3 linked regions of the Homo sapiens genome follow. The protein of the gene in region 2 purifies or fractionates together with the protein of the main gene of each other region. This does not show direct contact. Each region holds a gene or a part of one and is shown on either strand. Other genes may lie near its edges.

Region 1 (3,656 bases), on a different chromosome or scaffold from region 2:
TCCAGTTTTTGAGTATTACAAATAAGGTTTCTGTGAACAGTCACATACAAGTCTTTGCTTGGATCTGTGATTTCTCTTGAGAAAATATGTAGAGGTGAAGTGACTAGGTCACATGCTAGGAATATTTGTGACTTTTAAGAAACACTACCAAATTGCTGTCCAAACTCGTTATGCCATTTTGCATTCCCATCAGCAGTGTATGAGGCTGCCACTGTAGCAGCAATTAATGTGGTCTTAAGGAAGCTTACCATGTGCTACCTACTGTAGCCTCTTCTCAGCAACAATCACAGGCTTGATGGTCTAGAAGTATTTTTTCCATACTTATTCAAATAAATGTATAATTACAAAAATAAGTTGGCCTATGGGCCGCATAAGATCATCTCACATTTCATGGATAAACTGGGAATTACAAGTGTATAATTAAATTCCTGTTCATAGTAAGTATGCTATAAATGGTAGATACCTGAGATGACAAAACTTTTATCAAACTTCATGTATTTGAAATAATAAACAGTTGTTGACATTTAATTGTATTTCACACAGGTATTTGAAAATATCTAGCTTCAAAAGCAGTTTATAAAACATTTAAAAATTAAAAATACAAATCTTCATATATGGTTTTGTTATATTAACTTTGAGAAATTACTAAATAGCACAAAGTAAGTCCTGTAGTAATTAACAGTTGTAGAATGGATTTTGTAAAACCATAATTTTATCAATGAAAACGTTAAACTTTATATTTTGTAGTTGTTTTTAGGGTAAACACATGACACTTAAATTTTTTTTTTTTTAACAGAACAAAACTCCTTTAGTTAATGAGAGCCTGAAAAAGTTTTTAAATACCAAAGACGGTAAGATGTTCAGTTTGTTCTTGTTTATCTATCTCTGAATTTTTGAATCTTGATACCATTTGGGAGAAATCAGGAATTTCAGGGCTTTTTTTTTGTCTTCAATTGTTATAGGTCCTCATTTTAAAATAATATTTTATTGTACAACAATCGTGTTGCTATTACATATTTTTGGATTTGGGATGTTGTTGCTTAAAGCCAGTTTTACTACAAAAAGCCAATATTAACCATTAAAAAGCGAAACACTGAAATCTATGAGATGATTGTCTTACAGTTAGTTACAGACTGATGATCCCAGTGAAAAAATCAGGAGATTGAGATTTTCATTACTTAATCATATTATTCAAAGAGGAAATTTGTAACTTAAAAAATTTAGAAACCTTTCTTCCATTAATTTAGTGTATCTATTTCATAATGTTAATTTAAAAAATTCAGTTTTTGAAGATTTGCTTACTTACCTTTTTCTTGATCTTTATAGGTCGTTTAGTGGCTAGTCTTGTTGCAGAATTTCTTCAGTTTTTTAACCTTGACTTTACTTTGGCTGTTTTTCAACCTGAAACTAGCACAGTAAGAATAATGATTTTTACATCTATCTTTTGAAACCTTTGATACAAATGAGTTAATATTAAGCTGAAAGTTAATAGAATTTGACAACTGATAGTTTTTTACATTTAGATTATTTTTGGTAGTTGATTATCTGTTTTTCTTAAAAGCCATATGAGCTTTCAGATAGCTGGCACCAGTGTTGCTGCTTTGTGTTACTTGAAAGCTTGCTAATAAAAGTGTTACTATAGAGTTAATTTTGATACGATGTTAGAGTGCACCTGTTAATGGAAACGTTGAAGGTAGAGGCTCTGTAAAAGAAATAGGCATAATTTTTTAAAATAGACATTTCATTCATTAGTAAGACAGTCTCTTTGAGTTTAAAGATGTCTTTAAACTCTGAAAATATCTTCTTTACTCCTTGAGAATAACTTCTGCTATTTTTTTGTGCACTTGTATTTTAACTTCTTTTCTAGCTGCAAGGTCTCGAAGGTCGAGAGAATTTAGCCCGAGATTTAGGTATAATTGAAGCAGAAGGTACTGTGGGTGGACCCTTATTATTAGAAGTGATCAGGCGCTGTCAACAGAAAGAAAAAGGGCCAACCACTGGGGAAGTAAGTAGAATTCTGTGTTATCTTTTTCTATTTTAATTATTGGCTGCTTAGTTTAGCCATGCAGATTAGTGCATATATAGTAAATTAAGGTTTTCATACTAGAAGATATTCCTTAAAAACAAAATGAGATGCATTCAGATTGTATCAATGCAAATTTTAATGAAAATTAGGAATGTGCTGACTGTGATTCTGTGGCATATCTGTTCTGGTTTTTGATCCTCAAGAGTGTTGGGTCATGAGCTAAACTGTCTGGAACAAATCCCAACTCCTCGTTGCCTCACTTGATCCTCCATTCATTCCATACTGTGTATGAAGTGGGCTCTACCAGGCCCTACCTTGGTGTTCTGAGGCTTCTCTGCATAAGCCAACAGAAGCACTCAACTTGCTATTATTTTTATTAAAACATCTTATTTAAATATAAAAGGGCTGATTTATAGGATAGTTAATAAATTTTTGGACTTAAAGGCCTCTTTAGGCTTAAAACTAAGCTGTTGATTTTGCTTTACGCTGTTTAGAAACAGTTCAAACTTACACTTTTTTGATCAGTAGTACTTTTCATACTCTTAACCTTTTTTTAGAAATTGTGCTAATGAGATTAATGATATAATTTTATTTTCATACATTAATTTTACATGAAGATACTCTGTTTTATAGATACAGGTAACATCTGTAACTGTTCCAGATATTTGATTAAATGTGAGCTTTTAGTCAGAAATTTATAGGTAAGAATGTGGAGGGCTGTATAGGTTTCCAGTTATTTTCTTTGGTGAGTCTCAGAGGATGTTTTCTATTAGAATTTTTGAAAATTGATAAAGCTTGCCTGAGTACTAATTATGTGTAAGGCATGGTAAATAGACTTTGTGGGTACTATAAGATAAAATATAAGAAACTTCTGTGTCTCTGAATAGCGCAGAGCTATTTAAGATAAAATGTGCTCAAATAAGGAAATTAACATTTAAATAACAGTTTAAGATTATGGAGGAATTGTCATTTAACACATTATTTCCAACCATATTATGAATAGTTTAGAGGAGGAAGCGATTGTCACATGCCAAAATTTTATTGAAGTCAATTTTAAAGTGAGAGTAGGATGTCAGTTGTGGGGCGAGGATTGGGAAGGGCTTTCCGAGAAGTTGGAACGGTGCCAGCCAAGCGTGGGAGCAGGAGAGCATAGCCAGATCCCAGGCTGGCTGGGAGTGAGGCGGCTCACCCAGAGCGCAGGTTGTCACTTCAGCTTGTGCATATAATTTCATTCCTTCATTTATCAATATCCAGCAAGCTTTTATTGTGCGCTTATTTGATAGATACTGTGCTGGGTACTGGGCAATCAAAAACAAACTAAAGAACCCAGTCTCCTGGGGCCAGCAGTCTGTAGGTCATGATGACCTCTCTTTATTGGCTTTCCCCTCTCGGCTTCTGTGGCCCTGAAGAACTCTCTTCTCTTTCTAACTGCCCTTTCATTTTCTTTTCTGTTTAGTAGTTGTGCTTTGGCTCACCTCATTGCAGTGGTGTTTATGCATATTTTTCTGTCTAGATTGATCTTTCTTCCTTAACATACCACTAGCATGGACTCTGGAACCAGGTTACTTGGGTGAAACCCCAGCTCTGCTACATTCTAGCTCTGTGAGCCTGCAGTCACTCAGCCTCCGTG
Region 2 (3,656 bases):
GATAGAATGTTGAAAGCTTTGTTTGTTTAGTAAGTCTGAAATTGATGAGTGGTTTTTCTCTCTCAGCTTGCTCTTGAGAAATATGAGGAAATGTTTCCAGCATTTACTGATTCAAGAGAATGTAAATTATTGAAAGTAAGTAATATTAGAACTTTGAAGAAAAATGCTTTTGTTCTGTTAGGTGACAACACCTAAGTGGGATTGGGTATGAAGTGAAGTTTTAATCTATAAAGTCTGCTAACTGAGGGGCCCTGGTACTTTCCTGCTTTCGTATTATAGGTGTTCAAATGCAATTAAGGTCAGAAACATGTAGTTGTGTTCTGAAATAGGCACCTGAGAAATGTTACTACAGAAGCTAGATCCCTAACTTGGCTCTTGACTTGTATATGAGTATTTCCTCAGTTTTGTGCAATATTTGGCAACATTGGTATTATACTTAAAGTATATATTTAGAAATGGGACTTCATCTTACAGAACTGTTTTTTAAAATATTTTTATGCTACCAGAAACTCCTAGAAGCTCATGAAGAACAGAACAGTGAAGCTTACACTGAAGCAGTAAGTTATGCTTTTGGGACATGGTACATTATTTGAAGATTTAAGTTAAAGAAACTTCTTTTCCTTTTCATTATGTGAATTCTAAACATTTATTTGAACATGACTCCAGCATACCTTAAGTTGTATTTTCCAAACGTCACCTTTTATATATCACACAAATTAAACAGTTCCATTAGCCATGCTGAGATTCGACTTACACTCAAAACTAATTTAGCTGTGAGACTAGTTCAGGAGCAAATATTCCATTTATATTCTTATAATTTGCTGTTTTAATTTTTTCTTTTGAAAATAATCTGACCCATAAATAAGTATAAAGTAAAATTAGTTAAGGCCAGGCACGGCGTCTCACACCTGTAATCCTGGCACTTTCGGAGGCCGAGGCAGGCAGATCATGAGTCAGGAAATTGAGACCATCCTCGCCAACATGGTGAAACCCCGTCTCTACTAAAAATATAAAAATTAGCCAGGCATGCTGGCACACGCCTGTAGTCCCAGCTACTCGGGAGGCTGAGGCAGGAGAATCGCTTGAACCCGGGAGGCAGAGGTTGCAGTGAGCTGAGATTGCACCACTGCACTCCAGCCTGGTGACAGAGCGAGACTCTGTCTCAAAAAAAAAAAGAAAAAAAAAATTAAATATAATTTAAAATATAAAAACTAAGTAGTGAGAATTTGCTGTATTTGTGGCATGAAATAAATGGAAGGTGGCCAGGCACGGTGGCTCACACCTATAATCCTAGCACTTTGGGAGGCCAAGGCGGGTGGATCACCTGAGATCAGGAGTTTGAGACCAGCTTGGCCAACATGGCAAAACACCATCTTTACTAAAAATACAAAAATTAGCCAGGCATGGTGGAGTGTGCCTGTAATACCAGCTACTCGGGAGGCTGAGGCAGGAGAATCTCTTGAACCCAGGAGGTGGAGGTTGCAGTGAGCCAAGATCACGCCATTGCATTCCAGCCTGGGCAACAAGAGTGAAACTCCATCTCAAAAATAAATAAATAAATAATAAATATATATATATATTAAAAATATGAGGGTTTTTTTCTTTATACTTTTTGTTTTTCCATCTTTTGCCATCTCATGTTTAGAATCAAGCAAAAAAAAATGTTTTTATATATTTTGAAACAGATCCTCACTCTGTCACTCAGGCTGGAGTGCTGTGGTGTGATCACGGCTCACTGCACCCTCAACCTCCTGGGTTCAGGTGATCCTCCCACCTGAGACTCCTAAGTACCTGGGACTACAGGTGCACACCACCACCCCCAGCTAATTTTTTTTTTTTTTTTTGCATTTTTTGTTGAGACAAGGTTTCACCATGTTGCCCAGGCTGGTCTCTTAACTCCTGGGCTTAAGCTATCCACCTGCCTTGGCCTCCCAGACTTCAAGGATTACAGGCATGAGCCACTACATCCAGCCTCAAGCAAATTTCTCAGTAGCCTCCTGTAACATGTTCATCACAGCTCAGGAGTGATAGAGGAAAGGAATGTTTTCCTGTCTGACTTTTGCCTACCACATCATTTTCATCCTATTGTAATTTTATTTTTGGGTAATGCATTGAAATGTGTTAATTCCGCTTCCATACATATTCTAACTCTGTAATTAATGTTTTCCCATGTTCAGTGAGTATTAATTTTCCATATTCCTTTCAAATTTTTATACAATATCCAGTTACTTTTGCCACAATAATTATGACTGTTAATGAATTTTTTTCTTACACGTTTGAAAACAGAGAAATGTCAAGCCCAGGAACTTGTCACTAGTATCAAAATAGTAACAGGATAATGAAAAAATAAACAATTTTTTAATGAAGAAAGTTATAAACTGGAATGATTAATTTCAAATGATGAAGAAAGTTAGTAGATTATGGCTGTAAAGGTATAAACAGCTTGGGGTACTATTATTTTGTGTTTTTAATGTATTTACATGGGGTAATTCCTGTTCCTCTTTCCTTATACTAGGTGAAGGAATTTGACTCAATATCTCGCTTGGATCAGTGGCTGACCACCATGTTGCTTCGCATCAAAAAGTCCATCCAAGGGGATGGAGAAGGAGATGGAGACCTAAAATGAAATGTTTTTGTCTTTGTGGCATGCAGCTAACTCCTCTTTAGTTTTGTCTTAGGGTCAAGTGATCTTTATGGGATGCCTATTTAATGGCTTAATTTTGTTGCATATGAGCCAGACGGCCTGTGTATTGTTTAAGCTCGCCAAGTCTGTGTTGCTGTGAAATGAATGAAGGAGAGGCTCCTGTTCATCTTGTGGTAATGATGGGTTGTTTCATGCTTATCAGAACCCCCAGCGTTTTCTGAGAAGTACTTCAGAATCTCATTCCTCATATTTCATTGGTATTTGTGGAGCCTATGTTTAATGTTGCCACGTGTTTTTATGTCCTTTTTGTTGGACTTGAGTACTCAGCCCAGTTGTTCTCATAGATGCTTTGCATTTTCTCTGTGCTTTGGCATCTGAATATGTTCTTTAAATGTGTGTTTAGTTTAGGACAGTTACTAGGAATGAGTTTATAACTTCATTAGAAATCATTTCTATTTTTGTTATCCTGTGATTATTTTGATGGTGCTAGTGACTAGTTTCTTTGCTTTTTGTGTTGTTCCGTATGCTAACATGTGCATGGCAAAAATTTAGAATAGCCAGGGTCTGTAGGCATCACATTGTGAGGAAGGGAGCTTTCTGGAAGTACTTGCTTCATGTATGGATGAGTGTCAAAGTGAATTTGATTTGTACTTAGACACACGCGTTTACACACACACACATATCACAAGATCTGTTAGAAATGGAATTTTTCTCTTTTTCTGGAGATAGTTTTCACTTTTAGTTGGAGTGGAAATCCCTTTATATTTACATTGAAGTATTTTAATTGGCATAGCCTGCTCATTATTTTCATGTTTATACACTTTCCCACGTTGAGGTGGTGTGTTCTGTGCTGTGACTATAGAAATCTTGGTCAGGGCTGGATAGATTATCTAAGTCAAGCTTGAGAATGAATGTATGTAATTTTCCTGTTTATTGTACATGATGGGTTAGGTGGGGTGAATGTGGTACAGGAATGTCCTGTATGCCCAAGTGGGCAAGAACCCCAACTTGT
Region 3 (3,656 bases), about 18 Mb from region 2:
ATCGTATCAGCAGAATGAAGGACAAAAACCATATGATTATTTCAATCGATGCTAGAAAAGCATTTGATAAAATTCTACATCCACCGGGTGTGGTGGCTCACGCCTGTAATCCCAGTACTTTGGGAGGCTAGGGTGGGCCTCACACTGACCATAATTAACACACAACGGGAAACATAGTCAGAGGGGTGCAGTGGCTAAAGCCTGTAATTCCAGCACTTTGGGAGGCTGAGGCAGGAGGATTGCTTGAGCCTAGGAGTTTAAGACCAGCCTGGGCAACATAATGAGATCTCATCTCTACCAAACAAACAAAAAAATTAGCTAGGTATGGTGACTCACACCTGTAACTCCAGCTACTTGGGAAGCTGAGGTGGGAGGATCGACTGAGCCCTGAAGATTGAGGTTGCAGAGAGCTGTGATCACACCACTGTACTCCTGGACTGCTTGAGTCTAGGAGTTCGAGATCAGCCTGGGCAACACGGCAAAACCTCATCTATACAAAAAATGAAAAAAAAATTAACCAAGTGTGGTGGCACATGCCTGTGGTCCCAGTTATTTGGGAGGCTGAGGTTGCAGTGAGCCGAGATGGTGCCACTGCACTCCAGCCTGGATGACACAGTGAGATTCTGTCTCAAAAAAAAAAAAACAAACAAAAAAACCAAAAAACAAAAAAACATACACTGGGGAAAGAACCAGTCTTTTCAATAAATGGTATTAGGAAAACTGGATATCCATATGCTGAAGAATGAAACTAGACCCCTCAAATCTCTTGACATATACAAAAATCAAATGAGAATGGATTAAACACTTAAATGTAAGACCTAAAACTATGAAACTACTATAAGAAAACATGGGGGAAACTCTCCAGGATGCTGGACTGGGCAAAGATTTCTTGAGTAATGCCCCCAAAAGCACAAGCAACCAAAACAAAAACAGATAAATGAGATCACATCCGGTTAAAAAGCTTCTGTACAGCAAAGGAAGAGACAACCCACAGAATGGGAAAAAATATATGCAAAGTATCCATCTGACAAGGAATTAATAACCAGAATATATAAGGAGCTCAAACTCTGTAGGAAAAAAAATCTAATAATCCAATCAAAAATGGGCATTTCTCAAAAGAAGACATACAAATGGCAAATAGGTATATGAAAAGGTGCTTAACATCATTGATCAAAGAAATGCAAATCAAGACTACAATGAGATATCATCTCATCCTAGTTAAAATGGCTTTTTAAAAAATATAGACACAAGGTCTCGCTATGTTGCGCAGGCTGGTCTCGAACTCCTGGGCTCAAGTGATCCTCCTGCCTCGGCCTCCAAAAGTGCTGGGACTACAGGCGTGAGCCACTGCACCCAGCCAAAATGGCTTTTATCCAAAAAAAACGGCAATAACGAATGCTAGCGAGGACGTGGAGAAAAGGGAACCCTCGTACAATGTTGATGGGAATGTAAATTAGTATAGCCACTATGGAGAACAGTATGAAATAGAACTACCATATGATCCAGCAATCACAGCTAGGTATATACCCAAAAGAAAGGAAATCAGTTTATCAAAGAGGTATCTGCACTTCCATATTTATGACAGCACTATTCACAACAGCCAAGATCTGGAAGCAACCAAAGTGTTCTTCAACAGACAAGTGAATAAAGAAAATATGGTACATATATGCAATGGAGTACTATTCAGCCACTAAAAAGAATGAGATCCTGTCACTTGCAACAACATGGATGAAACTGGAGAACGTTATGTTAAGTGAAATTAAGCCAGGCACAGAAAGACACACTTTCCATGTTCTCACTCATTTGCGGGAACTAAAAATTAAAACAATTGAACTCATGGATATTGTAGAATGATGGTTACCAAAGGCTGGGAAAGGTAGGGGGGAATGGGGAAGGTTAACGGGTACAAAATATAGTTACATAGAATGAATAAGCTCTAGTATTTGATAGCACAAAGTGACTAGAGAATAATTTATTGTACATTTAAAAATATAATAACTAAGGCTGGACGTGGTAGCTCACGCCTGTAATCCCAGCACTTTAGGAGGCCCACGCGGGCAGGCCGCTTGAGGTCAGGAGTTCATGACCAGCCTGGCCAACATGGCAAAAACCCATCTCTACTAAAAATACAAAAATAAGCCAAGTGTGCTGGCTTGCCACCATAGTCCCAGCTAACTCAGGAGGCTGAGGCAGGAGAATCACTTGAACCCACGAGCCGGAGTTTGCAGTGAGCTGAGATCCTGCCACTGCACTCCAGCCTGGGTGACAGAACAAGACTCTGTCTCCAAAATATATATATATGTATGTATGTATGTATGTGTATATGTATATATATAACTAAAAATAGGCCAGGCACAGTGGTTCATGCCTGTAATCCCAACACTTTGGGAGGCCAGCCTGGGCAACATGGCGAAACCCCATCTCTACTAAAAATACCAACATTAGCCGGGTGCGGTGGCGCACGTCTGTAATTCCAGCTACTCGGGAGGCTGAGGCACAAGAATAGCATGAACCTGGGAGGCGGAGGTTGCAGTTAGCCGATATTATGCCACTGCACTCCAGCCTGACTCTGTCTCAAAATAAATAAATAAATAAAAGTATAATTGGAATGTAATACAAATGATGAATGCTTGAGGGGATGGATACCCCATTTAGCCTGATGTGATTATTATGAATGCATGGCTGTATCAAAATACCTCATGTATCCCCTAAGTATATACACCTACTATGTACCCATAAAAATTGGAAAAAAAATTGGCCAGGGGCAATGGTTCACACCTGCAATCCCAGCACTTTGGAAGGCTGAGGCAGGCAGACTGCTTGACCTCAGGAGTTAGAGATCAGCCTGGGCAACATAGTGAAACCCTGTCTCTACACAAAATAAAACAAACAAAAATAAGTAAATAAAAAATAAAATTAGCTGGGTGTGGTGGCACACACGTGTAGTCCCAGCTACTCGGGAGGCTGAGGTGAGAGGATCGCTTGAGCCCAGGGAGGTAAAGGTTGTGCCACTGCACTCTAGCTTGGATGACAGAGCAAGACCCTGTCTCAAAAAAAACAGACCACTGGGACGGACAAACACACACACACACACACACACACACACACACACACACACACGCACACTAGAGCCTTGGCTAACATTTTAAAAATCTCACAACTTATTCCCACATGCCCGTCAGCTTACCCCTTTGCTGATGTAGCCTGACAGCAGGAGGGAGCCTATAATAATGAGAAAGGCGCCAATCAAAAACAGCACAGTGGCAAGTGCGATGGCCTTATAAGGGATCTTAGGAGGGGTTTTCTTAAACTGGAAGAGAAATAGAGATGAAAAAGACAACGAAGAACATTAATGCAAATACCTGGGTTCAAACATTTAATTAATTATTTGTAATTTTTATGTTTTTGTTTGTTTGTTTTGAGATGGAGTTTCGTTCTTGTTGCCCAGGCTAGAGAGCAATGGCGTGATCTTGGCTCACTGCAACCTCTGCCTCCTGGATTCAAGTGATTCTCCTGTCTCAGCCTCCTGAGCAGCTGGGGTTACAGGTGCCCGCCACTACACCCAGCTAATTTTTTTGGTATTTTTAGTAGAGACAGGGTTTCACCTTGTTGACCTGGCTGGGCTTGAACTCCTGACCTCAGGTGATCCGCCCGCC

What was found.
Region 1: the proteins of NAPB (region 2) and CEP43 purify together in Homo sapiens (co-immunoprecipitation; one large-scale study listed by IntAct). This does not show direct contact.
Region 3: the proteins of NAPB (region 2) and TMEM230 fractionate together in Homo sapiens (co-fractionation; one large-scale study listed by BioGRID). This does not show direct contact.

The regions. Positions count from the first base shown.
Region 1 is NC_000006.12:167,002,397-167,006,052, forward strand, and holds part of CEP43 (centrosomal protein 43), read left to right. Parts: intron 1-796; coding exon 797-851; intron 852-1,326; coding exon 1,327-1,415; intron 1,416-1,867; coding exon 1,868-2,005; intron 2,006-3,656. UniProt on the Homo sapiens protein: Required for anchoring microtubules to the centrosomes. Required for ciliation.
Region 2 is NC_000020.11:23,376,346-23,380,001, reverse strand, and holds part of NAPB (beta-soluble NSF attachment protein), read left to right. Parts: intron 1-66; coding exon 67-135; intron 136-506; coding exon 507-557; intron 558-2,515; coding exon 2,516-2,626; 3' UTR 2,627-3,656. UniProt on the Homo sapiens protein: Required for vesicular transport between the endoplasmic reticulum and the Golgi apparatus.
Region 3 is NC_000020.11:5,103,001-5,106,656, forward strand, and holds part of TMEM230 (transmembrane protein 230), read right to left. Parts: intron 3,311-3,656; coding exon 3,188-3,310; intron 1-3,187.